Linked DNA regions of Homo sapiens. The protein of the gene in region 4 interacts with the protein of the main gene of each other region in a pairwise test. Each region holds a gene or a part of one and is shown on either strand. Other genes may lie near its edges. The genes, in order: SH2D1A, SH2D1B, SH2D3C and MET.

Region 1 (8,904 bases), on a different chromosome or scaffold from region 4:
AACTGGTTGATGAGGCCAAATAAGTACATGATGATTTATTTGTGTGTCAGGTGCCAAGGTGTGGGATGTGAAGAGTTATATCTATAAACCAAAATGAGGCAGACCACAGGGTAGACGTTGGTAAGTGATGAATGTGAAAGAAGTCAATGTCAGAAATGATATACTTCTTGAGGCAAATTAGAAGCCACATTCTCTGCAGAGGGTTCTCTCTATAAAGGGAAAAAAGAGGGGGAAAGGAAGGGAGCTAACTAGGTGCCAGGTACTCTTTTAGGTTCTGGGTGTGCTAAGAGGAATATGACATCATCTCTGTCTTCCGGGAGTTCACAGGCTAGTAGGAGAAAATAATATTGTGTATTTGTTAGGCTCCAGGCACACCGCATATACCATCACATCTATCTTCATGGAAAAAGATAAAAACTAATGAGGAGTGGCCTTCATTTGGTCTAGAAAACATTCAAAAAGGAGAATGGGGTGATAAGACCTTATCTGTGTATCCAGGTCTTCCCAGGAGAGAAAATATCCGTATCACTTTAAAAACAAAACAAAACAAACCAACCAAACCCAAACTACTCAGTGTTCTGTTACTTTGGATGGATGAGCTTATGATCCTGTTTCCAGACCCATAAACCCAGGAAACAAAACTTGACTGTGAACTGAAGACCCTTCCAAGACATAGTAAATAAAGAGAATGAGGCTAAAATAGTATATCTGATTTGATAAGACATATAGTTATATATAGACATGCTATGAGTCAGGGCATGGGACCAGTTGACACTTGAAATGTAAGAAGAATATTCTAGAAGTCCAGATTACAGTCGCTAGATAGGAGACTGAAGCCTGAGCAATCCAGTGCAGTGACCTCAGAATTAATGTTGGGAGGCAGAAGAGGATAGTGGTGAAGTGCACAGGCTCTGCAGTCAGTGGCCTGTGTTCATATCCTGGGCCTGACATTGACCAGTTGTGCCACCTTGAATAGGCTACCTAGGTTCTCTGGGTTTCAGTTTCTTTGTCGGTAAAATGAGACTAATAATAGTATTTGCTTCACAGGGTTGTTGATATAAATAAATGAGATAATACATTCAAAGTGCTTAGCAGGATGCCTGGAATATAGTATGCAGTTAACAAATATTAGCTGTTGCTATTATTCCGAGAATGAAACCTCAGAAGCATGCAGAGTTTCAGCTAGAATGAGGGAACTTCCTTTGAGTCACGAAGGAGGCAAAATTCGTGCAATAAAAAAAAAAAAACCTGTACACAGCAGACAGAAAGATAAAAACACTTTCCATCTCGAATAGATTGTGCGAGTTAGAATATAAGTTGAGTTAGATATGCCACTACTATGTCCCTAGAGCCCCATCCTTTCCTCTATCTCAGCTCTTGTTAAGTGAATTATAATTGTCTGTTTGCTTGTCTGTCTTCTTCACTGGACCTATGAGCTACTTAGGGGCAGATACTGTACTTTTCTGTAACCTAAGTACCTACTATAATGTCTGGCATATGGTAGATGCTCATAAGTGTTGGTTGAAATAATAAAAATATTTAAGACAGGCTTAAATAAACACACACAACAACCCTGTCTCTGGCTTCTCACTTAAAAAGGGCATTTAGAAAGATTGGCCTCATAGGTAAACCCAGAGATTATCAAAAGGAGGTGCTCTTTTGTAAAAAAAACAATTTTTTTCTTTAATCATTTTTGTAAAGGAAGTGAATTTTAGTAAGTGCTGAGAGAATGTGTAAACTCACCACAGGTAACACTGTCATAACACTGTCACAGGAGAATTCACACCTATAAATGAGCTAGTGGAAGAACAAAGTTAGTTTTGAAAGGTCAGAGAAAAAGATTTTGAAATGTCAGAGCCACTCTATAAAACTGACCACCCTTGGCATCATTCTTTTAATCTACCTGGGTTTGAGAATAGCCTAGGGCATTTGAAATGAAGACAATTAGCACCTCAGACAGGGCTTCCACATGCAAAATTCTGTCACCTCTCAGAGACCTCAGGAGTTGACAAGTTTGGTTAAGAAGATACTTTCAACCTTGGCTGGCAGTTTTTCTAAAATTTCAATGCTTTTATAATCTGATTTAAATGGCATCTATATTCTAAAAGGTTGTAACTGTGAAGCTCTCTTCCTCCATTCTATGATTTTCCCCCTTAAGTTATTGTAAAATGTCAAGAATGAAAATATTTCCTTTATTGAGGGAGATTGAGGAAACAGGTCTTTGTTCTTGTGCACAAATAAGTTCAATTCATTTCCCCTCTGTTTCTCTCTAAAACACATTTGGCTTTTGTTTAGAGAATAGAATGTTAAACCTAGACGTGACCTTAGGGGTCATCTGGTTCAATTCCATTTGACAGATGGAGAAAATGAGACTCAGAGAGAAGTGATTTAGTGGCAAAACATGGCATATATTTCAACTCTCCTACTTACTGGACTACTGCTCCTTCCAATTCATCTTGTCATTTCAAAGACGACCATAGGCATGTAGAACCAATATTGTGTGTGTGTGTGTGTGTGTGTGCGTGAGTGTAAAAGAGAATTTCAGTATTTTTTCTTTTATTGAGAGCATTAAGTTCATTCATTCATTCATTCACACAACAAATATATATAGCACCTACTACTTGCCAGACACAGGATACAGTGGTGAGCAAAGTACACAAAATCCCTCCATCATGGACCTTACATTCTAGTGGGGGACACAGACGATAAACCATTAATTAAATAATTCTGCTCCTAAGTGGTTTATACTTGTACTTGGGGTCCATTCTTCCTAACTCTTTCTCTGTTGGTGCCTCTACTATCTCCATTGCTCTCCTCTTTCATTTTCTCCCATTTCCTCTCGTGTGTATGGGGAGAGAAGGAAGAGAGTCATTTCAATTCCTCTTTTCTCTACGCTTCAAGCTCAGTGTGAAGTTTTGAATTTGCTAAAGTCAGGTTTAGTACTGGTGTAGGATTAGAGTGAAGATGTCAGTATTTTTCATCAACACTGCACTAGTGGGCTGGCTCGGCTGGCTCAGCTGTCAGCTTGCTTGTAAGATGACAATGAGGTACTGGATGTGAAAGTTGTACTATTACCTTATAATTTATCTGTTTTTTAGTGCAATTTTAGTTGTGCTGAACCCCGTCATACCTGGCTGCTTTGACAGGTGTGCTATTTTAGCAACATGGAACAAAACAGAGAAAGAAAAAAAGAGTGCATGGTACGCTTGTGCTGTCAGATCCAGGTTGCTCTGTTCCTAAGTTTATGGATGATTTGTTCAGAGTTGTTAAGAGACAAAAAAAGGTTAGGTTTTGTTTTCACTTATGTGACACTGAATGTTCTCACAGTTCACCTCACAGGTCAGCTGTTGCTCATATGGACTGATATAAAGGGATCCCTTTCCCTGTCTCCTTTCTATTTGAAATTCCACCATTTTGATTAATTCCTCTGGGCTAACCATTTGCCTGCTCAATATATGGAGAGCCCAAGGTGGACAACCTTTCAAATCCTTAATGTTGGAGTATGCATTCATATATCAGATTAATTTCTTCCTTGATCCAAAGCATGAAAAGGGGTAAGAGGTGGAGTTGGTCAAAAACATGTGAGGAAGGAAGATGATAAAATAATATTGGTCCCATTCCCCAGAGCCATCCCCAAATGTCACCTTGAATGCTTTAAAAAAAAATTCTTAATGCTGAAAATGACTAGTAGGAGACTTATGTTTATACTTTGCATACTAAGGCTGGACACTCTTCAATCAAGAAGAAAAGTTGCTACCAGCTACCACTGAAATCTTAGAGGATTGTTCTTAATCCTAGTAGATGAAGAGCAAATATCTGCCTTTGGTGCAAGTCAGCTCTGTACATCCAATCCATTGGTAAGACATGTGAGGAATTAAGTGTCGTTCTCGCTATTGAGTTCCCAGCCTTGCCATATTCTCAAAGAACTACACACTGAAGTTGCAGAAAGCATATAATAGACGACATAGCTTCAGTTATTTAAATTCAAATTTTAAAAGTACTTTACATAATCTAAAGGTACATGTACAAGACCATTCAGCTTCAGCAATAAATAAAGTCTTACTCTAGTGAAAATGCAGGAAGCTTTGCGGAAATATTACCTAGCACATTTTGAAATAGAAGCAATGTTTTATTTCAGAGAAGAAAATGAAGGTTGAAAGGTTTTAAAATATTAAAGACAGTTTAGCCTCAATCGAAGAAATAACATTTTCTAGAAACAACAGAGAATAAAAGTTACAACAAAATTATCAACAACTTGCAAATGATTCAAAACAGATTTTATGGACAAAATGCTGAAAGGTGGGCCCTGTACACCAAAGGGCACATACAAATCCACATAAAGGCAAAGCACCAGTTAAATGATTCACAGTCTCATCTAAAGCCCATCAAATAGATACATCTGGAACATCTTTGGATGTACATTGTGACTTTTGTATCTCAACTAGCACTTTGGGACCTTGGACAAGGTGTTAGGAAAGAAATCAATATTTGCTCAGGATCAAGACTTCTCAAGATGACTGCGTGAGGTAGAAGGAAGAGGGAGAAGAAGAACTTGCCCAGAGTTCACTGTTCATCTACTATGTCTGATTCTGTAGGAGTCTTCATGGCCATGTTCAGTAATGATTGCATACTGACAGTACTGATAAAACTATCAGTGTTTTGTTCTCAGAGCTCTTGGTCCTTTCATTTTGTCAGTGTGTTTTTGCCCTACGTAGTGGGTCCACATACCAACAGAGACATGTACAACTTGCCTCTATCATCAACTCCTTATGGGCTAGTTGAGCTAAGTTATTCCTGGTGGCCTCTGAGTAAACCGCAAGAACAGAAGCATTACTAAGCATCCCCGTCTGAGTGCAAGGGTGTGTGTTGGCAGTACAGCCCCAATCTTGCAAAATCCTTCTTCCAATGTTCCTCCCCTCTCTGTATGAACCCTGTGTTGGGGGGCAGAAGATGGAAGCCCTTGGCAAGCTCGATCGAACCAAGCTACTAAATTGCTGAGCTCGTTTTAACTGAAGTGTGAGAAGGAGGTTTAAGGCAAGTAGACAACATCCTGTTGTTGGGGTGCTTCTCTCTTTTTTGCACATCTGGCTGAACTGGGAGTCAGGTGGTTGACTTGTGCCTGGCTGCAGTAGCAGCGGCATCTCCCTTGCACAGTTCTCCTCCTCGGCCTGCCCAAGAGTCCACCAGGCCATGGACGCAGTGGCTGTGTATCATGGCAAAATCAGCAGGGAAACCGGCGAGAAGCTCCTGCTTGCCACTGGGCTGGATGGCAGCTATTTGCTGAGGGACAGCGAGAGCGTGCCAGGCGTGTACTGCCTATGTGTGCTGTGAGTATGATACGGTGGACATGGGCCTGCTGAGGGTGTGGGCGGTGGGCAACAGCAGCTGGGGCCAGGGTGGAGGCCGAGGCAGGCAGGGGCGCCGGCGTTAGCAGCTCGCCGACGCCTCCTCCGTGGCCCACCCTCAAGTCCAGCCCAGGGCCGTGGTGGAACACACTTTCGCCTCAATCCCTCGCTGGGGATTTCATTCCCTGGGCCTCCTGCTCTCCAGAAGGCCCTCACCAGAGCCTTTTGGGGCAGCTGCAGAGAATGCCATTTCGGGTGGTGAAATGTGGTCCACAGTTTACCTTCGCTCCGGGAAAGACCCAGGCTCCCCACTTCCATTTTGACCCCTATCGGGTGGCGCCCTGCGAGCCTTACTCTAGCTCTCTTTAAACGACTTTTGAAGTGTCATCCCAAAGGAAGAGCATGACATTCAGAGAGAGGAGGCACATTAAGAAACAGAGTCAATTACTTTAAGAATGCAATGCCAGTTAGGTCGAGATGCTGAGAGAGGAGGGGGATGTGTGTCAGTAAAATCACCTCTCTGGATCTGCTGATGTAGCATCCTTTAGAAAAGTAGTGGGGGGTGGGGAGGGGCAGGGGATTTCAGAAATAGGACCCTTCTTGATAAACGTTAGGACTCACAATAGTCTTAAAGGGAATGGAGGGAAAACACCCTTGTTATGATTCAGCTTTGCCATTTGCCTAGGCATGTCTCATTCTAAGGCTTCATTTTGAATCAAATTCATCTGCGTCTTTGCTCCAGGGCTCCGGAGTCAGGCAGATCTGAGACTTTGTCCTGTGCTCGTCAGATGTTAGGTTTGTGACTTGGGCAAATTAACCTCTCAGTTCCCCAGTTTTCTTATCCATTGAATAGGTATCATATTACTGCCTACCTCATAGGATTGTAAGATTAAGTGCCATAATGCAGTAAAAAAATTAGCACTGGGGCCTGACACCTAGTAAATGTTCAATAAATGTAAGCTATTGGTATTATTATTATACCAAAGATATATTATTATTTTATCTTCTCTTTTCAGTTGATTTCTTTTAGGAATCATGGGGGCATTTCTAAGGAAGGACCTAGCTCAGGCATTATTGTCAGCAGGATAAAAAAAAAAATCCATGAAAACAGCAGCCCTGCATTGTAGGTTCTAGACAGAAACCAAATGAGGTTAAATGCTTGGTAGTAAGTTCAGCATCTGATAATACCCCACAAGAGTTTGAAATACCTTATGGGTCAGTGAAGAAAGATTATCCTGATGCTGGTGCTAGAAGATTTTTCACTGTATATTGTTTTTTAAAAACGGTCAAGCCTTGTTTGTGGCAGCTCTCAGGTCATGCTAAATACATTTTTCACAAAGGCTTCAAGGGAAATACGTGGAAGCTATTGAATGTCTTGGGCTTGAATCTTTATGTTTTGCTTATATAATTATTGTTCCCGTGTGGAACCTAGGGAAGGGCAATGAAAACCAGCTAGGATTCTTAGGCTCTTTTCTCATTGAAAGAAGGTGGAGTGAGTGGGTGGGTGAAAGGCGCTGCTTTAGGGAAGCTGACAAAGGAGATAACATGCTCCTTAACCCAAAGGTGAAAAAGAATGTACAAAACAAGTCTGGGCAGGGGAGGGACAACAGGGTATAGTGAGAGGCAAGATATACCTAAGGCTTCAGCCTCACGGGGCTCCTGGCCGTTTCTCAAGCTCCTCAAAAATGCCCCCACTTAGGATTTCTGCGCTTATTGTTCCTTCTGCCCAAAATACCTTCAGTTCACATGTTTGTTCAACTGTCTCCTCCCTCAGAGAGGACTTGCTTGACCACCTATCTAGAACAAGTGCCCTCTCCCTGTCCCTGATACACTCACTCCATCTCTTTATTTTTCTTCAAAGAGCTTTAAACTATCTGATAATTTGCTTGTTTACCTACTTATTGCTGGGCTGTCCTGCAAAAATATAATCTCCATGAGGGCGGAGATACTGTCTCCATCACCAGAAACACAGGAACACATAATAGGCACTCAGCAGATATTTTTGAATTAACAAACTGTCAAGGCAAATTCTGTTCTTTACTGCAATAAACGGAATGGCCATTGAGAGGTTAGGGTATGGACTCTGGGAAAGTCACTCAAATTCTCTGGGACTCAGTTTCCATATTTATAAAACAGGAATAGTAATGTGTATCCTACCTTCTGCAAAAGATTGCCTTAAGTACCTTATGCAAGAGAGAAGGGCAGCTTTAGACTTTTGCCTATGTAGGCCGGAACCACATGAGGAATTAACTTAGGCAGGTGAGAAATTATCAAGCATTTAAGTTTTCGCCCAAAGTGAATCTTGCATAAATGCAGTTTTTATGACTCTTAGTTCTCCATGAAAACCTCCTTGTGAAGTAGCGGAAAATACTAGACAAATTGGGAGTTCCCTTACGGTGTCTTTCAAATGGTACACTGGGGCCTCAAAGTCTTATGTGACTGTTAGGGTGATAGCCAGAATGTGCTGCAGAGGGAAGATATGAGGATACATTGCCTTTTATCAGTTTCTCAATGTTTTTGAGTTGAGTGTCCCTTTTGATAAATGTAAAAATTTCATTCCCTCTTTTTGGTGCTACACTGTAATTATAAAATCAGATTTTATTTAGAAATAAACCACGTACTCATTTTAAACCAGAACACTTATGATATGCAGTCGAAATAACAATATAAGTGGTATCATATACACATGGACAACAAGGTATAGCTGACAAACATGCATTGATTGTAGGGTTTACTCAGAATGGTTTCTCATTCTATCTTTTGTTTACTCCTATTAACCAAGAAGATTTAATTGAGCTATAGTTTTTATATTTTTATTGTAGAGATAATACATTTCATATGCCTTCAAACTGTACTTTAAACTGTACTTTCAAACGATGCTTGCCCTTTTCCCCAGTTCTGAACCTCCTAATCATGGCTTTCAGATATGGCCTTTTCTTCTGTTCTGATTTAGAAAATCGAAAATTGAACTGCTTCATAAAGCACTAAAGGAGTTTTCCATTTATAGGATTGCTCACCTTCATTTTAAGTAATAAGTATTTCTTTCAATTACTTTCTCTAAATAAATATAGATTTTTGTATAAGTCTATTAAAAATAGTTCCTTATACCTATTCATTATAGAAAATTTGAAACATATAGATAATAGAAATTAGAGAAAAATCATCTATAGTTTTATAACCTAAAGATGACTATTGCTAAAAATTAGGTGAATTTTCTTCTATATTTTAATAAGATGAATTGCTTTTTGAGCACGTGTGCTCTTACAATTGTATTCTTACGAGTGACGTATTTGACTACTAAAAAGTTTGATTTTTGTATGCGTCAAAAAAAGTAAGGGCAAACACCAAATGTTATATATTTATATATATATAAATATCTAATATATATAATATATAAATATATAATATAAAATATATAATATATAAATATATATTATATAATATTATATAATATATAATATATAAATATATATTATATATAATATTATATAATATATAATATATAAATATATATTATATATAATATTATATAATATATAATATATAAATATATATTATA
Region 2 (8,473 bases), on a different chromosome or scaffold from region 4:
CCTTAGAGTCATGGAGATTCCAAGAATATTGGGGTCCCACTATAAAGTATGTTCAATGAATGATGGTGATGCAATGAGTTAGCTCTTTAAGGAGATAGACAAAGTGCTATCTCCTACGATAAGACAGTAGGAATGAAGTGGGAGGTCCTACACTGTTGCCCTCCATCAGGCATCTTTTAACAAGCACAACACAAGCATTTGCCATGCTGCTGTGGTCAGTGATGATCTTGTGATCTTGGGCTTTCTGGGGTTGACACCACACTGTCCAGTTTCTACGTGACTTTTCACTCAGAACAACACTGTGATTCACATTTGGCCTCATGCTTCCTTGGTCTTGAGAACAGAATTTTATCTGTAAGGCTGGATTTATTTGACATCTTTAGTAGAAAATAACAAAAACAAATGCCAACTAGCTTATGACAAAAGGGAAATCTATTAAAATGACAAAAAAACTCAAGGGCAAGCATGTAGCCAGACCTCAGAAATCACTGAATCCTGGAATGAAAACCCATGGAAAATCCAAGTGAGACTATCTTTTGACTCTGCTTTTTTTCATGTGTCCACTTCATTCCTCATTTTGCAGACCAGTTCTCTTCTCCTGACAGCTTGCTGGGATATGGCCACCAGTATACAGTGTAAAAATGTACCTGTTACACAGCCATTCCTAGAGAATTAATTTCCATTCCCATTTCCTACCCATCCCAGCCCCCTACCCTCTTTCTTTCTTTCTCTTTCTTTCTTTCTTTCTTTCTTTTTCTTTCTTTCTCTCTCTTTCTTCTTTCTTTCTCTCTTTCTTTCCTTCCCTTTCTCTCTTTCTTTTCTTTTTCTTTCTTTCTCTTTCTCTTCTTTCTTTCTTTCTCTTTCTTCCTTCCTTCCTTCCTTCCTTCCTTCCTTCCTTCCTTCCTTCCTTTCATCTCTCTCTCTTTTTCTCTCTCATTTCCTTCATTTCCCCATTTTCTCTAAACTCCTGGATAAGGGTTTGTGATTAACTTATCTTAGGTCGGAGGCCTATCCTTGATCAAATCACCCATGGCCAGAAGAATAGGGTCATGTTCTACAAACATAGTGCTAGGTTTTTGTTTCTGTGGATGAGAGAAAGGGGACCCACGCAAGAAATTGAAGATATTCCTGTGTACTGTGGAGCTATTCTTAAAGGTGACATGGGATCAGAATAATATGGGAATGGAAAGATATTTTTACTATTAAAACTTTACAACACATGCAAAAAGAGACATTAATATAATGAACCACACACACAATCACCCAGTATCAGACATAACACTTCAATACGTATCTCTAAAAGTTATATTCACAAAAGCATAATGCCATTGCTACACGCACTATCTAATATCAAATCAATACTTAAATTTCCCCCAGCACTAAATTTTTGGTATTTGGTTTTTTCAAGCCAAGATCCAAACAAGATGTCATCTAGCATTGGTTTCATGCTGCATAACCATCTTTTTAACCTAGAGCAGTTCTCACCCAACTATCTGACTCAGTTTTTACAACCTATGAAGACACCACATTATTTGTTCTACTGAATGTCCCATACACTGGATTCCAAGAGCTTAAAGCTTTTCTCCAAGGAGCTAGGACAAAGGGCTACATCTATATTTGGGCAAGGTTGATCTTTTACTGGATAATATAAATTCAACGTATTTTGATCAACCACAATCATTATTCCTTTGATACTTAAATTTTTCCATATTGGGTCTTATGTCCTTTGACATGACTCAGTCTTCACTGACACACTTATATGTCCCTGGCATGAATTCAGCCATTTCTCTAAAAAGTTCTTGCTTCTTTTATAGGAGAAGTGGTATTTAGAGACCATAGCCTTATCCCTAGGTGTGCTCATTGCTACCAAGTTTTCATTGTTTTAGCTAGGGATTGGCAAACTACAGCCCATAGTGCTGCTTTTACACTACAATGGCAGAGATGAATGGTTGCAACAGAGACTATTGCCTGCAATGCCTAAGAAAAAGTTTGCTGGCCCCTGTTTTAGGCCTTTTGTTGAAAAGCAAGTTGTAAATCCATGCTGATATTTCCAATTCAAATTTAGCATCAAAAATTTTATTTAACTTCTTTGCTTTTATATGTGTATCTCTTTTCTTATACTGAAAAAAAATCTTGATTCTAGAATTTTCCCAGGACTCATCTGTCTTTAACACTGAAAGTCGTAGATACTGGGAAACCCCTCAGACATAAGCAAACTGGTACAGTTGTTTACCTTACTTAGTTCTTAAAATGTTAATATCAGTATGATTTTTGTTTATCTTATAATATGAGTTAAATATATTTAAATTACACCAAATTATCACTAAATTTATTTGCTAGTTTATTTAATGTACAAGATATTTAATTAAAACTGTTCACTCAAATTCTACATTCTAAAGTCAGTTGAAATAATTTTCTTTATGATTATATTACCAAAGTAATGTTCAGTTAGATACATTATTTTAGTTTTTATTCCTCCTTTTAGGAATACCCTTTTACTTGTTTATTTTCAATGTGTAAAACAATTATGGCCGGGCGCTGTGGCTCACGCCTGTAATCCCAGCACTTTGGGAGGCCGAGGTGGGTGGATCACGAGGTCAGGAGATTGGGACCATCCTGACTAACATGGTGAAACCCCGTCTCTACTAAAAATACAAAAAATTAGCTGGGCGTGGTGGCAGGGGCCTGTAGTCCCAGCTATTCGGGAGGCTGAGGCAAGAGAATGGCATGAACCCAGGAGGCAGAGCTTGCAGTGAGCCGAGATCGCACCACTGCACTCCAGCCTGAGCGACAGAGTGAGACTCTGTCTCAAAACAAAACAAAACAAAACAAAAAAACAATTACATGATTCTACATTCAAAACTCCACAGCAGGCTGGGCGCAGTGGGTCACATCTGTAATCCCAGCACTTTGGGAGGCCGAGGCAGGCAGATCACTTGAAGTGAGGAGTTTGAGACCAGCCTGGGCCACATGGTGAAACCCTGTCTCTACTAAAAATACAAAAATTAGCTAGTCATGGTGGCACGTGCCTGTAGTCCCAGCTACTTGGGAGGCTGATGTGGGAGAATTGCTTGAACCAGGGAGGCAGAGGTTGCAGTAAGCCGAGATCACACCACTGCACTCCAGACTGGGTAACAGAGTGAGATTCTGTCTCAAAACAAAACAAAACAAAAAACCAACAACTCTACAGCAAGTTTTACTGAGAGAAGTCTCACCTCTATGCATGTTTCCGCTCTCCTCTTAGAGGCAGAAGTTTTTAGTTTTAATTAGTTTTAGTTTTGTTCTTCCAGTGGGTGTTTCGTTTGTTTTTTAAATATGAGCAAATATTATAAATGTATATATTTATTTATATCCCCCATACTCTATATACTATTGTGCATCTTGCTGCTTTCACCTAAAAATACATCCTGAAGATTATTGCATATCAGCATATAGAGATCTTCCTCAATCCCATTTTATTATTCTATAGTAATATTCCATTGTATACATGAATCACAGTTTATTCACCTGTCCCTCTATTCACAAGTCTTTGAGTTGTTTGTAATCTTTTTCTATTAAAAAATACTACCTTATTCACAAGTCATTTTCTAATTCTGCCTGTGTAGTTTTGTGACAGATTTCTAGAACTGAGATTGTTCTATCAGATGGTGAAGGCATACATAAATTTGCAAGATATTGCCAAACCATCTTTTACTATAGTTGTAACTATTTTTTATTCCAACTAATGATATACAAGATATTCTATTTTCTTTCACCATGACCAACCCAATAAGCTTTCAAACTTTTGATTTTCACCCATATGATAGGTGAGAGTTGTTATCTCAGCATGCAGGTAATTTGCATTTCTTTTATTGTGAGGGTTGGATTTTGAAACAGCAAAAAGGGCAAGGAAGCCCCTGTGATGACCAAGAGCCTGAGCATGCTTTCAGTTATTTCCTCTCTTATGTCAAAAAGCATCTTTACACCACGATTGTGAATTTATTCACAAGAAATACCAAATTTCTTCTTTCATTATTAACAACTCTGTCTTCAACTGCCATAGTTTCCAGAGAATTGAATAATGAATTGTCCAAAACCACAGAAGAAAAGTTGCTATTTGAGAGCATATCTGTCTGATAACGAGTTCCCTGATCAGTGAAACTGCACTATGCCAAATGCAGAGTGGGAATTCCAAGGAAGAACAAAGATCTGTTACAAGGAAGTTCCATAGAAGATACACCCAACTGTGAGTAAACAGCTGGTAAGCAAAGTAGCAAGGTGAAATAAACATCTAGGTTAAGAAGAAGTTAAGATCTCCAGGTACTACGGAGATGAAGAAAACAAAAAAAAGAAGAAGTTAAGAGAAGTAAAGATGAATCGTTAGCACATAGTTCTATTTTCATAGATAACATTTTTGAGATATATATAGTGATTTTCTGTAGATATATGAGTATACCCAGATATCCCTCCCACCTACACCAGCCCTTTCTCCAAAAGGAACAATGCTTGAGGGTGTTCAAATGGCCTTTTTTCACCAGTGGCTGGGAGCCTTAGCCATGGAATGGGCTGTCCTCATCCACAGTGTCCCACTGTTTTTTATTGCCATTAATGTCTTCCATTTTTAGTGTCATTTGATCCACGGAAATCCCACCCTTTCAATTTTCCCATTGTATCTGAGCATATCAATTCTCTCAGCATCCAAATGGTTTTTGAGCACCCAGTCTAAGCTAAGCATAGCCCAATCCTAGGCAACTTCAGCAGAAAATGGGTACCATTACAGCAAAAGCAGCGGTGTGCTTCCTGGAAAGGATACCAGTAGCCAAAGAAGTTGATGATAGTCCATGGTAATATACAAGGCTGCAACACAGTTCCAGGAAGCTTGACTTCAGCATTGCCTCCCTAGCCATGAGCATCACTGATTCCATTGTGTGTTTAAATGTGCTTTACCTACTTCTGTGAGTCACATGTGGGCCATTTAGAGGGTGAAAAGTGTTGGTCATTTTATCACCCCGCCCTCCTCATTTCCTGAATCTTGTGAAGCTGGCTGAGTCCCACAGACCGCTAGAGGAAGAGGTAGCTCCACAGGAGGTACAGCTGCTTACACATCTCTCCTCAGAGCTGTCCCTTGACTTGGGGGTGAATTTCAGGCCAACAGGGCTTCCTGGGATACAAGAGCGTTCTCCATGGATCTGCCTTACTACCATGGACGTCTGACCAAGCAAGACTGTGAGACCTTGCTGCTCAAGGAAGGGGTGGATGGCAACTTTCTTTTAAGAGACAGCGAGTCGATACCAGGAGTCCTGTGCCTCTGTGTCTCGTGAGTAGCCTCATCTTGCACACATCTGACATCGTATGTTGAATGTGGCAATGGCTGCCACACAGTACAGGAATTCATATCCCTCAGTATTTCACTCTGACTTTGGAGTCTCAATGAGTAGAATGAGAAGTAATGGACACTGCCAGGAGAGGAATGTATCTGTCCATGCTCCTCCATCTGCCTGCTCTCCCTGGTGTAAAGGCCCTGCAAGCAGACTCTGCAGCAGCAGGAGGGACATGGTGGTGGTGAAGGGAAGGGCTGCAGGAAGTACAGGGGTACAGAGGGATGGAAAGAAGGTACAAATGTCAGAGGTCCTGTCCTCCAGAGATCTGTTTATTTGGTATGGAAAAGGCTAGGGGTTCTTCAAGAAATTTCAATCTGAAACACTTATTCTGCAGCATCTGCTTGCAATACGTAAACTATAAATACAATCATATTTCACATTTTGTTAGATTTGTGAAGGACTTCAATATTCGTCATTTCCTTTCATCCTAGTAGTCTATCAAGGCAAGCATAAGCAGTCACCATTTCATAGGTAAAGAAACAGAGACCTGAATTTCTCAAATAATTTGTTTGTGTTAAAACTCATTTGGAATTTCCAGAGTCTAAGTTAAACATGAAATTCCAGGCTGGGCATGGTGGCTCATGCCTGTAATCCCAACACTTTGGGAGGCTGAGGCAGGTGAATCACTTGAGGTCAGGAGTTTGAGACCAGCCTGGCCAACACGGCAAAACCCCATCTCTACCAAAAATACAAAAATTAACCTGGTGTGGTGGCGTGTGCCTGTAATACTGGCTACTTGAGAGGCTGAGACAGGAGAATCACTTGAACCCAGGAGGCAGAGGCTGCAGTGAGCTGAGATTGCACCACTGCACTCCAGCCTGGGCAATAGAGTGAGACTCTGTCCAAAAAAAAGAAAAAAGAGTGGCTGGGCACAGTGGCTCACTCCTGTAATCCCAGCACTTTGGGAAGCGGAGGCAGGTGAATCACCTGAGGTCGGGAGTTCGAGACCAGCCTGACCAACACGAAGAAACCCCGTCTCTACTAAAAATACAAAATTAGCCAGGTGTGGTGGCGTATGCTTGTAATCCCAGCTATTTGGGAGGCTGAGGCAGGAGAATCACTTGAACCCGGGTGGTGGAGGTTGCAGTGAGCTGAGATTGTGCCATTGCACTCCAGCCTGGGCAACAAGAGCAAAACTCCATCTCAAAAAAAAAAAAAAAAAGAAAAAGAAAAACAAATTCCAGGCCACAGTATCAAAGAGACCTAGCTGAAGGAACTTGTTTATGCCCAGTTTAGAAAGCAATCCTGAACAGAAATCACTAGAAACCTCCTATCTTTATGTATGTTCCTCTTTGTAAAGTAGGGACCACTGAACCTTTTATTATACCTGTAACAGAAATTAAAATCCAAATGTCTCTTGTTAAAGAAAAAAATTACTCAATGTCACTTGTTAAATTATGGTTGGGAAGACTTTATTCAGGATCATCACAAAGGTACAGGGACCACTGCAATGAGCTCTTGCGGCACAGAAAAGAGACTGGACTCAACTCTGAATCCAGCATGGACAAGTGGGAATTTATGGCCAAGGAGCAGTGTGGCTGTCGGTAGACAGAAAATTACTCGGAGGAAACATCAGGGGTAAAGTGGATTCTGGCTAAACCAGCCTAACAGAATTGTAGCTGAAGACAGGCCCGGGTGATCAGATGTTGCCTGGGGGATGGTGGAGGATGAGGAATCTGATCAGAATCCAACAGTGATCAGATAGCTAGGGTGAGGGGTCCTTGCCAAACTGACTTAGTAGGGTTCTTTGCTAAAACTGGATTTTACAAGGAAGTACACAAATGGGCCTTGGAATAGGCTCAGAAGTCTGATTATAGACAAAAGTGATTGTCATTACTAATAGAATACACAGGGACATATTTCTTTCTTTAAATGGTACTGGAGATACAGGCTATTTCTCTCATATCTACATCCAACAGTACCATTTAAAGAAAAATATATATTGGCCAGGCGCGGTGGCTCATGCCTGTAATCCTAGCAATTTGGGAGGCTGAGGTGGGCTGATCACTGAGGTCAGGAGTTCAAGACCAGCCTGGCCAACATAATGAAACCCCCATCTACTAAAAATACAAAAATTAGCCAGGCATGGTGGGTGCAGTTGTATCCCAGCTACTTGGGAGGCTGAGGCATGAGAATCGCTTGAACCCAGGAGGCAGAGGTTGCAGTGAGCCGAGATCGCGCCATTATACTCCAGCCTGAGAGACAGAGAAAGACTCTCCATCTCAAATAAAATAAACAAAGAGTGGAAAAGATCTGCTTACATGTAAATGGGATGGAGGGCATTTTAGGAAGGGGAGGAGGTAGGAACAGGAGTCTAGAAGTGGGATATTTTAAAGGATTTACATACAAGGTTCCTAAAATGTAGTTTGGAAACCAGCTTTTGGAAAAGGAGGGTGGGATAAGATCATGGAGTTTTAAAAGAATGGTTCTATAGATAACAGGGAAACATGGATGGTTTCTGAGCAGGGAAGTGAAAAGACTGGTGAATTTAGGAACTTCAATTTGACGTGGAGAACACAATGAAGCTGGGAAATGATGGCAACAGAAACTGTTGTGTCTCTGGACGGGAGACGGTGAAGAGCTAGTTGTGCTGGGGCAAGCAGTGGGAAGGGAAAAAACAAGAAGGTGCAAGGACAGACCTTGGCCAGGATCTCAGGGTATATGGTCAATATGGGATTCTCTTCCTTCCTTTCTTTCTTTTTTTTTTTTTTAGACAGGGTCTCACTCCAGCTCCTAGGCTGGAGTGCAGTGGTGCGATCATGGCTCACTGCAACCTCAACCTTCTGGGTTCAAGAGATTCTCCTGTCTCAGGCCCCCTGAGTATCTGGGACTACAGGTGCGCACTACCATGCCTGGTTAATGTTTAAATTTTTTGTAGACATGGGGTCTCGCTATGTTGCCCAGGCTGATTTCGAGCTCCTGGGCTCCAGTGATCCACCCACCTCAGCCTCCCAAAGTGCTGGGATTACAGGCATGAGCCACTGCACCCAGCCTATATTGGGATTCTCTTTGAAAATTGATATTTATTCTCAACTGTTCTGTGGTGCATCAGCCCATCTTGCATATTCATCTAAAGCAAAGGTCACTAAGAGATGCTAAAAAATGGGCCAGGC
Region 3 (7,000 bases), on a different chromosome or scaffold from region 4:
GAGTGAGGAGCAGGAAACGCGGGGGATGCTTCGGATGCCAGGGTTGGGGCCAGAGCGCCCGCCACCCTCCCGCCCTCTAGGTGGGCTTGGACATGCCTGGGGCGCGGGTCTCTCCCAGCCCAGCTGGCCGGGCAGTGCAGGACGGCGCCGCGGCGGTGAGAGGGTTAAACGGAAGGGGGTGGAGGGGAGGACCCGGACCCCGCCTCTCTGCGGAGCATCCTTTGGGGATGGCTTTGCTTGGGGTTGGGACGCCGAGGGGAGCTGGAGGGGATGCTGGGCTCGGGCTGGCGGGAAGGGGTTAAGACCCTGTCCGGGGGTCTCCGCGCTCCTGCCCCCTGAGCCCCCTGGGAGATGCCAGGCGCGTCGGCTCTTCGCTCCCCCAGGCTCACACACGCTCGCGGAGCCCGCCTGAAGGACTGCCCCGCCGGCGGCGGAGCGCAGCATCCCCGCACCGGCCAATCAGGCGCGCGCAGGCCGGGAGGCGGTGAGATCATCTCTGGCCAATAGCAGGGCGCCGAGCGCAGGGATGCTGCATTCGCACCCCAGCACCCCCAACTCTAGGGAACTGGGGGCTCCCAGGTCGAGGTGAGATCAAGGCACAGGGACCCTAGGATTCCTCACCCTCAGGTGTGTGGGAGGACCAAGTTGGTCCCCCCAAACTCTCCGTGACCAGTGATTAAGCTGGAAAAGGGGAGCCCAGTCTCCCAGCCCCTTTAACGGATGAGGCTGCCCAGGCCCAGAGAGGGGAAGTGACTGGCTCAAGGTCACACAGTGGCAGCCTTGGGGCGGTTCTTCAACATCCAGCCTCCTCCCTCCTTTGCCCACGTCCCTCTAGCTCCAGCTGTGGAACTGGGGGAAGGTCTCAATCGCATGCCCTTTGTCAAGGAGGACGCCAGAAGGCTGAGGTCTTGGTTCCCTTTTTCCCTGTGACGCCCACTCTCCCCTTTCCAGGGTTTGGTGTGATATGAGGAAAGAGGACTAGCCTGGTGTGAGCACCGCAGAGTGAGAGGGAGAGAGACCAGGGACCCCCAGAAGTAGGGGACCCCTTGGAGAAGTGTAGGTGTCTGAGAAGGCCCAGATCCTAGCCCAGCCCTGGGCCTCTCTGCCCTTCGGGGGCATCGGTTTCTACCACGGCCGGAGGATGTGCAGAATTCCCACTCCCAGGCCCCGCCTTTCTCCTGAGCACCTGTGCAAACCGCCCACTCCCACCATCTGTCCCCAGAGCCCTGCAGGCTCCTCAAGGTCCAAATTTTCATGGGTCCACCACCAAGCTGCTCCTGCCCCAGCCTTGCCCACTCAGAGCATGTCCCAATCATCCTTCTAGGATCTCGGCCAGGAGTCCTCTCTGACCCCTCCGCCCTGCTCCCCCACATGAATCAATGGCCATCTAAACTCCCTTTCCCCCACTCCTTCTGCCCACGCCTTATCTGCCCTGCCACTGCCTGGAAAACCCTAGGCTGCTCTCCATAAGTGGACTAAACCTGCCCCAACACTTCCAAACCCCTCCATGGCTCTGCTGTGGCCTCCAGATAAACCCCAGCTCCCTGAGGCAGCCGTGCCACACCTGCCCCTGCCCCCACAGCCCCTTGGAAGCTTCTTATTCATCTCCCCTCCCTCCCCTTGGCTCTGCCCGTAGGACCCTGACTTTGCCGCTCTCTCCCCAGAAGCTCTTCCCTGTCCACCTGTCCACCTGCCCTCTCCACCCTGGTGCTTTTGCTTGGCTCACCCAGTCCTTCAGACCTCAGCAGAAACACCACCTTTTCAGGGAAGTGATTCCTGACTCTGCCCCCTGACTAGTTTGGTGGTGCACCATCTCTGTGCATCTCGGGACATTCAGGAAACCTGGAATTGATTGTCAGTGTCTGCAAGGCCTCCCCCAGGGCAGAGGCCACCTTGGGTCCTCAGCCCTGGCACAGGACCAGGATAGGGACCTAGTCAATGTTGAATGGAATCAGAGATTCTAGATATCTCTGACACTGGGAATCATGGTGTCTTGGGAGCAATGCAGACTAGGCTAAACCCAGGCAGTATGGGAGCAGAGGGGTGAGGGATGTAGCCACAGAATTAGGAGGCGAGATCTGTGGATAGTCTGAGGAGGCAGGGAGTGGACTGGAGGACCTTCGGACTCTCAGGAGCGAGGGGCCCCAGGGAGAGACTCACCTGGGATGAAGGCCCTTTACTGCCCTCCCTCATCTGTCCTGCCTTCTGGCCAGCGCTGGGGTCTGTCTGTCTTGGAGTAGCCATCTTTGGGGCCTGGAGGTGGGGGAAGGAGAGGAAGAACCATCCCATGTCCTCGCAGTGATGAGGATGTCCATGTGCTAGTAGTACTCTGGAGTGCTGTCTCTTTTCATCTTCGCAGTGAGGTGAGGCAGGTTCTGTCACTGTACCCATTTTAATGAGGAAGAAATTGAGGCCCAGAGAGCTCACAAGGCACAGCCAGGATTGGGCTGGGCTCTGGTGGGCGTACACCTGGCATTAAGGGCTTCCTTTCCTCTTCCCTTAGGGCCCCTGGGATCCATCAGCCTCCAACTTCAGGCCACAGTAATCAAGAAACCAGGAGTTTCTGGGCCAGGTGGGAGGGTGGAGTACTGGACATTATCTCCCTCAGTGGCCTTGGGCTTCCCTGCTGGGCCATGGTCTCCCCATCTGGGTGAGGATTGCTGAGGATTTCAAGGGAGAAATGGCCTTGGAAATTGTAAGGGGCAATGCAGATGTCTGTTTGGGGTCCCCGTGTCCCTGTTTATAGTCCCTTCCCCACCCTTGCATTGTAGAATGCACCATCCCAGAACGTATCCTTGTCCAACCAGTTCTGTGGTTTTGTTCATAGCTTTTCCTGCAGTTACCTGCTGCCTTACCTCCAAGATTCACCTGTAGAAATCCCCCTCCAACACTTCAAGAACAGTTTGGTGCCCTTGGTATATAATGAGTGTTTTCTTACTGCCATCTCCTCCAGGAAGGCTTCCGAGACCCCTCTGTCGTGCCCAGGCTTAATCCCGCTTGTAAAAGCCACCCGGCTCTTTGCCGCTGTCCAGCGCTGTGGTGCTGACCGCACTCTACTCAGAGGCTCCTGTTGCTTTTGCCTCTCCTCAGACTAGGCACTGCCTTGAGGGCCGGGCTTGGTTTATATATCACTGCATCCACCCCTGGCATATAGCACAGGGCCTGGAATGCAGCTGGCATTGTTTTGTGGAAGGAATTGAGATTTCTTTACTCTTTCTGGGACCCATGGGAAAGGGTCTGGCACCTGTGCCTTAGTGTTCCCAGAGTCCCAGGATAGGAGGAGTTCATCCATGGTAGAATGAAGTTGGGAGGGAAAGAAGAAGGAGACTTTAAGTTGGATGCCAACTCTTGCTGTTTTCTACCCAGTTCTCCAAGGAGAAGTACATCCTGGACTCATCGCCAGAGAAACTCCACAAGGAATTGGAGGAGGAGCTCAAACTCAGCAGCACGGATCTCCGCAGCCATGCCTGGTACCATGGCCGCATCCCCCGAGAGGTGAGTAGGCCCCGAGCTGGACTTCAACCCGGGACCCTCCCACCCACTGCCTTGGCCAGCCCCAGCCCTGGCTGCAGCCACCTGGGAGGCTCTGACCTGTTGCTTGGTGGATTCAATCAGAATGGACTGGGATGAGGTCTAGCTCTGCCCTTTACTGACTGTGTGACCTTGAACAAGTTGCTTCACCTCTCCGAGCCTCAGTATCTACTGCAAAGGGGTGTTGTGAAAATTAAACGAAATAATGCAGGTAAAATGTTTAACATGATGCTTGACACCATGAATGTTGGCCTTTGTTCTTATTATTATGCTGTTATTGTTACTGGTCTACATATCTGCCTTTTGTATGTTTGCTTAGTGAGTACCAATCTTTGGGCTACTTAGTTTTGGCAAAGTTGAGTTTCTTGGCTGAGGTGACTTTATAAGCCACAGAATTAAGTTGATAGATCACTTGTTCCTTCTTTCATTTATGCTATGATCTTTGCCAAACACCAACTCTGCCAGGACCTGTGCTAAGCACCAAGGGTGCAGAGGTAGAAAAGGTGGTGGCTTCTCTTGATGGCTAATGGCCCAGGGTGGGGGACTGACAGGCAGGATGACAGTCAGAGCCTAGTGGAAGAAGTACAAGAATAGAGTGCCTGGTAAGAATATGGGCGAGTCCCGAGGAGGGGACACTGAGGATGGAAGCCTTTGTGAGGTGGATAGGAGTTCACCAGGTGGGGCCAGGTGCGATGGCTCATGCCTGTAATCTCACCACTTTGGGAGGCTGAGGTGGGCAGATCACCTGAGGTCAGGAGTTTCAGACCAGCCTGGCCCACATGGTGAAACCTCGTCTCTACTAAAAATACGAAAATTAGCCAGGCATGGTGGCATGCACCTGTAATGCCAGCTACTCAGGAGGCTGAGGCAGGAGAATCACTTGAACCAAGGAGGCGGAGGTTGCAGTGAGTGTGCCACCTCACTCCAGCCTGGGTGACAGTGAGACTCCATCTTAATAATAATAATAATAATAATAACAATAATAATAATAATAAAGAAGTTCATCAGATGGACAAGGCAGGAAGGGTGTTCCAGGACAAAAAAGCAGCTTGAGGGTGCAAGGGCCAGAGGCATGCCAGAGCACTGGGTGGTTGGAAGAATGAGGATTAGGAATTCACTCTGCCCAACCGGAACCCTGAGAAGGGATGGGTCTGAGACCTGGGTCTCAGGTCACAGCCATTCTCACTCCTCCAGACCCTGGGCCTCTGTGCCTCCCATTCCAAGGTGTTGGGTCCTCCCATTCCTGAGCCTCTGTGCTGCAGACTCAGGGCCTCTGGCTGAGGTGCCCCCTGTGAACCTGGGTCATTGCATCCCCGCTCTCAGATGTCAGATGTCTCTGTTCATTGGGTCCTCTATGCCCTGGGTCTGGTCTTGCTGTGCCCCCTAATCCTGGGTTGCTCTGTCCCCCAGATCCTGGGTCTGACCCTCTCCTGGCCCCACCCTACTCCAGCCTAACCATGCCTTCTGCAGGTCTCGGAGACCTTGGTACAACGCAACGGCGACTTCCTCATCCGGGACTCACTCACCAGCCTGGGCGACTATGTGCTCACGTGCCGCTGGCGCAACCAGGCCTTGCACTTCAAGATCAACAAGGTGGTGGTGAAGGCAGGCGAGAGCTACACACACATCCAGTACCTGTTTGAGCAGGAGAGCTTTGACCACGTGCCCGCCCTCGTGCGCTATCATGTGGGCAGCCGCAAGGCTGTGTCAGAGCAGAGTGGTGCCATCATCTACTGCCCGGTGAACCGCACCTTCCCACTGCGCTACCTCGAGGCCAGCTATGGCCTGGGACAGGGGAGTAGCAAGCCTGCTAGCCCCGTCAGCCCCTCAGGCCCCAAGGGCAGCCACATGAAGCGGCGCAGCGTCACCATGACCGATGGGCTCACTGCTGACAAGGTCACCCGCAGCGATGGCTGCCCCACCAGGTCAGCCAGGGCCCCATTTGTCAAATGGGGTTGTGGGTAATGAGAGGGCTAGTGAGAAAGAGAAGGCCTAGGTACACTGAAATGGGATGAAATTACTCTCCTGGAGCCTCTGTGTGCAGGGAGGAATGGGAGGAAGGTTGGGCCATACTCTGTGGATGTACAGAACACAGGGCTTGCAGGGAGTCAGACCCAGGTTGCAGTCCCAGCTCTGCCACTCGCTGGCCATGTGCCCTTGACCCTGTCACCTCTCCTCTGTTATCCCCATGTTCCTACCTATAAAGGCTTTCATTCAAGCAGCCCTCCCTACCCCAGGGGAGCCCTGAGTCCTGAACCGGAGAGGGGCCTGGTCCCCGCCACCTGATGCCACCCCTCCTCATCCTACCCAGCTAGGCCAAGGTGGGCATCTGAGCAGAGGGCTTTACAGCATGCAAATCACTGCACAGGGAATGGGATGTTCTCAGCAAATTTTAATCACACCTGGTTGTCTCCGGGGCTAAAATCAGGCCCCAGATGCTGGGAAAAGCCACAGCAGCTGACGGTTCCTGAGATCCTACTAAGTGTTAAGTGCTGTATGTGCCCAATCTCATCAACGCCCATTTCCTCCTGGGAGGTGGGTCCTGCCCATACACCCAATTTGTAGATGAGGACATAGGCTTAGAGGGGGGAAGCCGCTTGCTAGAGAGTGGTAGGATCAAGATTCAAACCCAGGTCCGTAGACTCTGAAGTCTGTGCCCCAAGTTTCTGTGGTTTCCCTGGCTGTTTGCAAAGAGATCTGCTGTCCTGTGCCACCTGCACTTGGATAGGCCCTTGAGGCTCTGTCTCCCTGGGGCTGGGTTGGGTGCTCCCAGTCAAGGAATTGATGAATGGATACCCTGTGGGCTGCAGCCACTTGGCCTGTGGTTGGGAACCAGTAAACATAATGGTGTCAGGATCCACGGACCATGTGTGCCTGAGGCATCCTGAGCATAGTTGGGAGCAGTGAGGAGAGGTTGGGATGGTGGGCCCACTCCTTAAGGCTCACTACTCTTCCTGCTAGCCCCTCTCCCCAGACCATTCTCCAGGTTGGAGGAAAGATTCTGCTTATCAAGCTGAGGGCACTAGTGAGGGGCCGTGTCTGCCCAGAGAATGGTTGTAGTTGACTAATTTGCACAAAGGCACCTCATGGGGTAGTTGAATTCTGGCCTATACCCCCTTTCCCATCCTCTCCTCCTTGGGAAAGGAGAGGGACAGAGGAGCTTGAGAAGTGTTGGCTCAGCTGGGTGCCCCCAAGCCTCATCCTCAGGCTGCTCTAAGCTTTGTGGGAGGGGAAGCTGGATAGGAAAGGAGGAGAGCAGGGTCATGTGGAAGATACCGACTAGGAACCGGGCTAATGGCCAAGCGTGGTGGCTCGTGCCTGTAATCCCAGCACTTTGCGAGGATGAGGTGGGTGAATCACCTGAGGTCAGAAGTTTGAGACAAGCCTGGCCAACATGGTGAAACCCCATCTCTACTAAAAATACAAAAAATTAGCCACGCTTGGTAACGGGCACCTGTAATCCCAGCTA
Region 4 (8,286 bases):
TAGCAAGTTTGCTTATCTAGAAGAGAAGGATAATAATACTTCCTTCTTCACAGGGTGGTGATGAAGAGTAAATCAAAGAGTTTAGCAGAATGCTTCCCATATGGTAAGCACTCAATACATGTTCTTGTTATTTTTATTATTACATGGCTTTGCCTTACTGAGGCTTCATCTTGTCCTCTGGTCCAACTACAGTTCTCTAGCTTGGCTTATCCCTTCATAACCTGTACCCCCAGTGGCACGATCTTGGCTCACTACAACCTCCGCTTCCCAAGTTCAAGCAATTCTCCTGCCTCAGCCTCCCAAGTAGCTAGGATTACAGGCACCTGTCACCACACCCAGCTAATTTTTTTGTAGTAGAGATGGGGGTTCACAGTGTTGGTCAGCCTGGGTTCAAACTCCTGACCTCAAGTGATCTGCCCACCTCAGCCTCCCAAAGTGCTAGGATTACAGGCATGAACCACCGCGCTCAGCCAGGAATTTTCATTCTTTATCCTCCTTTGAGACTCGGCTCTAGCATCATTTCCAGTCGAGTTGGTCTCCCTTCCTCTGCATTCTGATAACTGTTAACCATCAAGTGACTTGAGCTTCCCAGGGAAGGGCATCATGTCTTTGTAGACATCCAATAAATGTTAGTAGAAGAAAGGGGGGTCCTGCCAATAATCATATGTCTTTCCCACAATTTAAACTCCTTTTCACCCTGTTACTACTTTTTGCTTGTCTTCCCTTTGATAAACATTCTACTTCTTCATCACCCATTCCCTCAATTTAACATCTGATACTACTATAGAAACTACTGCCTTGAAGATCAACAAACGGGTTCCATGTGGACCAACGTCCTCCTTGAGACCCTCACTTGGCTTTTGTGACACAGTGCAATATTTGCTCTCTTGATGCCTCACTGACCTTAACCTTCCTTGACTCCTGCATAGATTTCTCAACTGTGGGTATCCCCTAAGATTTAGGCCATTTGCCTTCTCTTCTTTCATCTAGTCCATTCATGAACACACCCATTCCTGGTTTTAACCATCACCTCTGTGCAGATAATGTGCAAAGTTTATTTCTAGTCGGAGTGGAGTCTCTGTTACTCTGCCAATCAAGTTCTAAATTTTTATTCCTTCTAGTGCAGCAGTGGCAAATACCTGACACTCATGTGTCTCACTCAAGACAGATACTGTTTCACCCAAGACTGATCATGCCGCTTTCCCAGTCAAGGCAGGCTTCTCAGAATCCTTCTCATTTCCGCCTCTGTTCTTTGGCACTAATGCTCTGTCTGCCCAGAGTTTTCATTCTTCACTTGTTCCAGGCACCTGCTTCCTGGTGAATAATGTAAAACCTGCTAGTCATCCTTATAGGAGAATATGCACTCATTTCCCAGCAGCACACCCGACTCAACGTGGTTAAAACCAATCTACCATTCCCATATATTCAGCCTAACTTCCCAGTGCAGTCTACCCTAGTTTTATAACTTGTTCTACTTTTTCCAGATAACTGCTAATCATCTTTGTTTGTCTTTGCTTTCTTTTTTGCACTGTGTTTGATATATTAGGGTATCAAATCCTACTTATTCAAATATGTCCCTTATTCATTCCTTCTATCCTTGGTGCTACCATATTTGTTCTGGCTCTTGTTACCTCATTATGGGATATAAAAATAGCCTGTCAACTGGTCTTTCCATTGCCAGGATCTCTCTGTTCTAAGCCACCCTGCCTCCAGATCAATCTTCCTAGAGTAAAACCTTCATTGTATGACGGTCTAGCTCAAAATTCCTTAATGATTATTAATCACCTCTTAAAGTCCCCAATTCTTAGACTATTAGTAGGGTAAAATTATTTTTGATTTGGAGTCAAAAAATTTTGGACGCAAATTTTGGCTACTACACTTAACCATTATGTAACTTCGAATTTCGGCTTAATTTTTATTCATCATTTATTCAGTATCTATTTGTTTAACACCTTCTGCATCTCAGGCTCTGTACTAGGTACTTGGGATACAATGATGAGCCAAGCAGACCTTGTCCTTGCTCTCCTGGACCTCACAACATGGTGAACTTGTCTCTATTGCTCATGATCATAATAATCCTAAGTACAGGCTGTGCTTTTTTCCCTTGATACTTGTAGCTTTTGGTTTGTGCTATGCAGGGTATTGTAATACCATTTGCAGTGCCACAATAATCAGCATATATGTGTTATCACTCAGCCACATTGCAGCTTCACTGAAGGGCAGGGGCTATGTCCCATTTCTCATAGCGCAAGCACAGTGCCCTGCACATACCAGCTGCTCAGTGATTTCTGATGTGGTTTTTGTAGATCCAGGGTTAGTCTTTGGCAGTCATGATGCCTAGTATGTTTTTAGAGGCTCCCTTTGTCCTATCAGAATTATGCTATTTAAAAAAAAGTCATACCTATTTAGTTTATATTCATTCTAAGGCCTCTCCTTTCCAACCTACTACCCTGCCTATAACTATTATAAGGAGAACTCACAATGTTTATAACTTGTGCACCTTAAGTTTTAAATACTGAATAACAGGCCCATTCATGTTTCCTCATAGAAATACTGTCTATATGCATACAATGAAATGTTAAAATAATGTTCTTTTTACTAAATAGCTTTTTGACTTGGTAATGAACAATATGTTGTTTTTCCCTGAGAAGTAGTTCTAGGACTTTAGTTCTGAAGATTATGTTGTATTTTATACATTTTCAGCCTCCTGTTTTTCAGTTCCCAGTGATCTTACATTAAACATTTGTCTGTCTAAAACAATAGGTTAACTATAGCCAAATTATAACCATACCATTCCTCTCCACACAAAATCCTATAAACAGCATGTGATCATATTGCTTCTAGAATTTATGATTGTTTTCTTCCAAAAGGAAGCTAAATTTAGCCTAGTAATTCTACATGCGCTCAAGAAAACAATGCCTGCTGTGATTTCTAGAATAAATGAATGTGAACCACAGTTCCTTTACTTGACTAACAGAGAAAGTTTAAATATCAACCTAGTCATTAACCACAGTTATTAAACCACGTTAAACAACCAGCAAGGGGTTAAGAAAGAAAGTTGCTATGTTTTTTCTTTCATTGCTGAATGAGTCTAACTTAGTTACTGTATCAACCTTAATACAGAACATTGTTTGCATCTCAATGGTTCTCTAAAATTATTCGTTCATGGCTTGAGTTCTAAAATTAAACTATGTGGAGTCATGTCCAACCGCACAATGCATCTTTATGTGAAACTTGCTAGAGTTTTTGTTTTCCTTCTATGTAAAAGTCCAGTTGGGAAGCTTTATTTCTGATAGATTAAATGGTATAGGTCTTTCAGTTTTCTCTTCATTTCTGACAACTGAACTGCTCTCGCCTTGAACCTGTTTTGGCAGATAAACCTCTCATAATGAAGGCCCCCGCTGTGCTTGCACCTGGCATCCTCGTGCTCCTGTTTACCTTGGTGCAGAGGAGCAATGGGGAGTGTAAAGAGGCACTAGCAAAGTCCGAGATGAATGTGAATATGAAGTATCAGCTTCCCAACTTCACCGCGGAAACACCCATCCAGAATGTCATTCTACATGAGCATCACATTTTCCTTGGTGCCACTAACTACATTTATGTTTTAAATGAGGAAGACCTTCAGAAGGTTGCTGAGTACAAGACTGGGCCTGTGCTGGAACACCCAGATTGTTTCCCATGTCAGGACTGCAGCAGCAAAGCCAATTTATCAGGAGGTGTTTGGAAAGATAACATCAACATGGCTCTAGTTGTCGACACCTACTATGATGATCAACTCATTAGCTGTGGCAGCGTCAACAGAGGGACCTGCCAGCGACATGTCTTTCCCCACAATCATACTGCTGACATACAGTCGGAGGTTCACTGCATATTCTCCCCACAGATAGAAGAGCCCAGCCAGTGTCCTGACTGTGTGGTGAGCGCCCTGGGAGCCAAAGTCCTTTCATCTGTAAAGGACCGGTTCATCAACTTCTTTGTAGGCAATACCATAAATTCTTCTTATTTCCCAGATCATCCATTGCATTCGATATCAGTGAGAAGGCTAAAGGAAACGAAAGATGGTTTTATGTTTTTGACGGACCAGTCCTACATTGATGTTTTACCTGAGTTCAGAGATTCTTACCCCATTAAGTATGTCCATGCCTTTGAAAGCAACAATTTTATTTACTTCTTGACGGTCCAAAGGGAAACTCTAGATGCTCAGACTTTTCACACAAGAATAATCAGGTTCTGTTCCATAAACTCTGGATTGCATTCCTACATGGAAATGCCTCTGGAGTGTATTCTCACAGAAAAGAGAAAAAAGAGATCCACAAAGAAGGAAGTGTTTAATATACTTCAGGCTGCGTATGTCAGCAAGCCTGGGGCCCAGCTTGCTAGACAAATAGGAGCCAGCCTGAATGATGACATTCTTTTCGGGGTGTTCGCACAAAGCAAGCCAGATTCTGCCGAACCAATGGATCGATCTGCCATGTGTGCATTCCCTATCAAATATGTCAACGACTTCTTCAACAAGATCGTCAACAAAAACAATGTGAGATGTCTCCAGCATTTTTACGGACCCAATCATGAGCACTGCTTTAATAGGGTAAGTCACATCAGTTCCCCACTTATAAACTGTGAGGTATAAATTAGAAATAAGTATCAGTCTCAAAAAGAATATCCAGGGCTTCTTTTGTGCTTTGTAAATGGTGTTTATCCAAAATAGTTGCAGATTTTTTCCAAGAAAATTGAGGAATTGAATCTTCATTTACACCTAAAATTATATCTTTAAAATGTAAATGGTAACTAAAAGAAAAATGTTTTTACAATTCAGATTTGCATGTTCGTGACATTTCAGATTATATTAAAGTTATTTCCCATATAAGCTTTTTTATATTTACACAGATTTTATCAGATTTACACAGATTTTATCAGATTTACACAGATTTTTATCACAGCAGCAATTCCCATAAAACATAATTATTGACATTTCTATATAATCTCTGCAACATTTACAAGATGTTCAAGCTAATTTGTATGCCTTAAAGAATTGTTCCTTATGAGATTATATTCTCTCACTGATACACAACTGATTAATCTATATTCTTGACATTACTTAAAGGAACTTAACTTTAAAAAACCTCTTCTGAAATGCTGGTAAATAAAACATTTTTAAATGAGCTCGTATACTTCTCTAAATAACCTGTAAGAGTAGAGAGGAAATGTTTGTTCCCAAGTCCTTCCTTTAGAGCTTGACTTTAATCATGGACTTCCTTCTGGAAAAGACTTGTGTCTACCAAGTTCTAGCTTGGCACTTTACCTGGTTGGTATTTGTTATTTATAAGCATAAATATTTTGGTTGATGATTATTTATACTTATATGAAATGGTATTTTCTTAGGAGCTGTTAGAGATATTCTTGGTGCTGTGATTTAAATATAGTAACAGCTACCAGCTATACCTGGAGATTTATCCTGCTAGTCAGTTGATCACCTGGTCTGAGTGTTTATTGTGGCTTTGAGTTTCTTGATCTGGGCCAGATTTGGAATACGGACCTGACTATGACCATCATTGAATGAACAAATAGTATAGCTTTTCTAAAGACAGTTTGACTTTGGCATGGTATGTTTCACTTACTTTAACAGGTTTCAATCTAAGATATAAAGGTTATAATTGCAATCAGGTAGAACATTAAACATGTCCTCAGTAGCATAAAGTATATAATTTGCTGAGGGGTAAAGGCATATGAATTCAGAGACATTTGGTTGACTTTTGCTGAAATGTCTGGGACACTTCTCTAGATGGAAACTATAGTTAACTTTTTATGATGCTAGGAAAATACTTCCAAGAAAGTCAGTTCATCTTTTGGTGAACTAAAAACAAAACTTCCTTCCTCTCTCTTCCAAAGTCTATGAATATACATAACATAAATGCACATACATTCCAACTAAGACTTATTTCCCCCTACATACATTTAATATATGTTGCAAAGAAGCAATAGAATTCCTTATGAAGCTCCCCCTTTTCTTTACTAGAAACTACAAAAGAATGAAAGGAAACAAAATGATTTTCAGAAACCTGGGATTAGGAAATAAAAATATAATATTAATAGCATTACAGAGAAGATATTTTTCTGCATCCAGTAAGTTGATTCTGAGACACAAGTTTTAAAAGAGTCTATTAGGAATTCCTCCAGGGCTCCTAGAGCACATGGATTTGCTATTTAAATCTTTCTTTGTTAAAAATTAAAAAGAAGGGTAGGGCAAGAAAAAAATTAAAAAGAGAATTCATAAAGGTATATTGATATCTCATTTTTTAAATTTTGTACATTTCAATCCTTAGATGTAAAAATACTTATCAATTCTAGAAATTCTCAAAACACATCTGAATTTTATCCTACCCTTTTGACTTTTTTAGTGTTCCAAGGGAGACAAACAGACAGGATTAGCCAATGAAATTCAGGTCAGTTTTATCGCCCAGGAAAAATTCCCAAAATGCACTAGCCACACCTGAAACCATTATCACTCCCATCACAAAAATTCTTGCGGGAAACAAGATGGAACTTGCCAACATAGTCTTCTTACAAAGGAAGCCAACTTTTACACTGGCCAAATTCCATAGACAAATACCTTCAAACCTCCTCTATTTATTTGCCTGTTTATCTTCTCTGGTTACAAAGATCAAAATTCTTCTGAGACTGAGACTACACATATTCTCTCTCTCCATATACCCCATCCAGACCTCAGATTGTTCCAATAATGAGCATATAATCATTTCCTAGCTTAATGCCAAAATGAAGGCACCTAGAGCCATTCATCACACACAAAAAAAACAAAATGATTACAAGATCAAAGCTGTTTAGCAGGACTCTCAAGCAATAAGATGACTCCATTTTGTCTTGGCAGATTTACTTGGCCAGAAATCAAGTGACCCTTTTAATAATTTCTTGGAACTGAGTTTTTACTTTGGCATCAAGTTTGGTGAAAAGACACACATATTGTAGTTTTGTTATTAACATCTCTAATACATTTATAAAGGGACTCTTGTGGACAAGGTTAAGAAAGCTGAGCTGCAGCAGTAACTTTCTACTTATGCTTCTGCCCAGTCCTCAGTGTTGACACATTGCTGAAAGAGGGATTTCCTGGCACTCCAAGAGCTCTCCACCATGTGCAAAAAGTGTTTCTATCACAAGATCAGATAATGGGAGTGCCAGGGACGGGCCTTTTACATTTTAGGGGTCCAGCAGGTGTACCAGGCCTGACTTGCTTGTTTAGGATCACATATTTTGTTGCTTTTCCCAGTCTCACATTTCATGAAATATGTCTATGCAAACTCTTCACATGCATCTTCTCATATTGATGACATCACAAAAGCCCTCTTTTGAGTCATTTGATAATTCCCAGTACTCGTCATCTTCACCCATAAGCTATTTGTGCTTCAGAACTCTTTGTCTCCACATATGATGCTGTTTCTGGAAACTTATCCCAAGCCACAAATGCCCACTTATAGAATACCAGTGTTGTTGACTATGTCAGTTGTTCTATAAGAATATATTCTTGATCCTCACAATGTGTCCATTTTTTATGTTGCTTTTGAAAGTGATTCTAAAGAATTTGTTTACAGTGACTTCCAATATTGAGTACTATGAGATTATACACCCACAAATAATTACTAAATCTGTTTAATATCTTTACCTCCTCCTTTACCCATTCATCAATCAACCTCTATAAGCATCCTAAATTAGTATTGATTGAAGTTGTTTTAGGCTAATGCATATTCTCTAAATAGCATATTATTATTCAAAATAAAATAATTGAGAAAATTGTCCCATAATATGGATGGAACCTTTGTAAAGGCCCATATGTAGGGAGAAAAAACCCTCATCTCTATTTGAGGATAAGCAGTAGCAAAAATTTCATTAACTTGTTTAAAATTAAGTGGAATTTAATTTTAAGACTGTGGAATCTCTAACAGTCTTTTACATATAAGGGATTGATTAATGTGACAATTTCAGGAAAAAAAGGAGAATCAGTACACATTGGCCCAATCTCCTACAAATGAGAATCAATACAGAATAAGAGAATTTTTTAAATCCCCAAATCAGCAAAGATCCTGTTCCCTAAGTTATAGAATATTTATTAAAACAAGTGAAATCGTACATTTTAGAAAAAATTTTAATCAAAGTTGAAATTAGAAAAGCATTCTTGAAATAGCTCTCGCCTCTCAGAAAATACAATTAGCACACAACACTGTTTTTCTTGAAGTTCTATTATCAAAGTTTTGCTCTATAGATAAGCATTTGAAA

The links.
Region 1: the proteins of MET (region 4) and SH2D1A interact in binary tests that used the Homo sapiens proteins (3 or more experiments, as listed by UniProt).
Region 2: the proteins of MET (region 4) and SH2D1B interact in binary tests that used the Homo sapiens proteins (3 or more experiments, as listed by UniProt).
Region 3: the proteins of MET (region 4) and SH2D3C interact in binary tests that used the Homo sapiens proteins (3 or more experiments, as listed by UniProt).

The regions. Positions count from the first base shown.
Region 1 is NC_000023.11:124,341,453-124,350,356, forward strand, and holds the start of SH2D1A (SH2 domain-containing protein 1A), read left to right. Parts: upstream 1-5,110; 5' UTR 5,111-5,190; coding exon 5,191-5,327; intron 5,328-8,904.
Region 2 is NC_000001.11:162,408,706-162,417,178, reverse strand, and holds the start of SH2D1B (SH2 domain-containing protein 1B), read left to right. Parts: upstream 1-5,042; 5' UTR 5,043-5,162; coding exon 5,163-5,296; intron 5,297-8,473. UniProt on the Homo sapiens protein: Cytoplasmic adapter regulating receptors of the signaling lymphocytic activation molecule (SLAM) family such as CD84, SLAMF1, LY9 and CD244. In SLAM signaling seems to cooperate with SH2D1A/SAP.
Region 3 is NC_000009.12:127,747,667-127,754,666, reverse strand, and holds part of SH2D3C (SH2 domain-containing protein 3C), read left to right. Parts: intron 1-3,366; coding exon 3,367-3,495; intron 3,496-5,001; coding exon 5,002-5,456; intron 5,457-7,000. UniProt on the Homo sapiens protein: Acts as an adapter protein that mediates cell signaling pathways involved in cellular functions such as cell adhesion and migration, tissue organization, and the regulation of the immune response.
Region 4 is NC_000007.14:116,695,697-116,703,982, forward strand, and holds part of MET (hepatocyte growth factor receptor isoform b preproprotein), read left to right. Parts: intron 1-53; exon of another isoform or gene 54-60; coding exon of another isoform or gene 61-103; intron 104-3,374; coding exon of another isoform or gene 3,375-3,388; coding exon 3,389-4,588; intron 4,589-8,286. UniProt on the Homo sapiens protein: Receptor tyrosine kinase that transduces signals from the extracellular matrix into the cytoplasm by binding to hepatocyte growth factor/HGF ligand. Regulates many physiological processes including proliferation, scattering, morphogenesis and survival.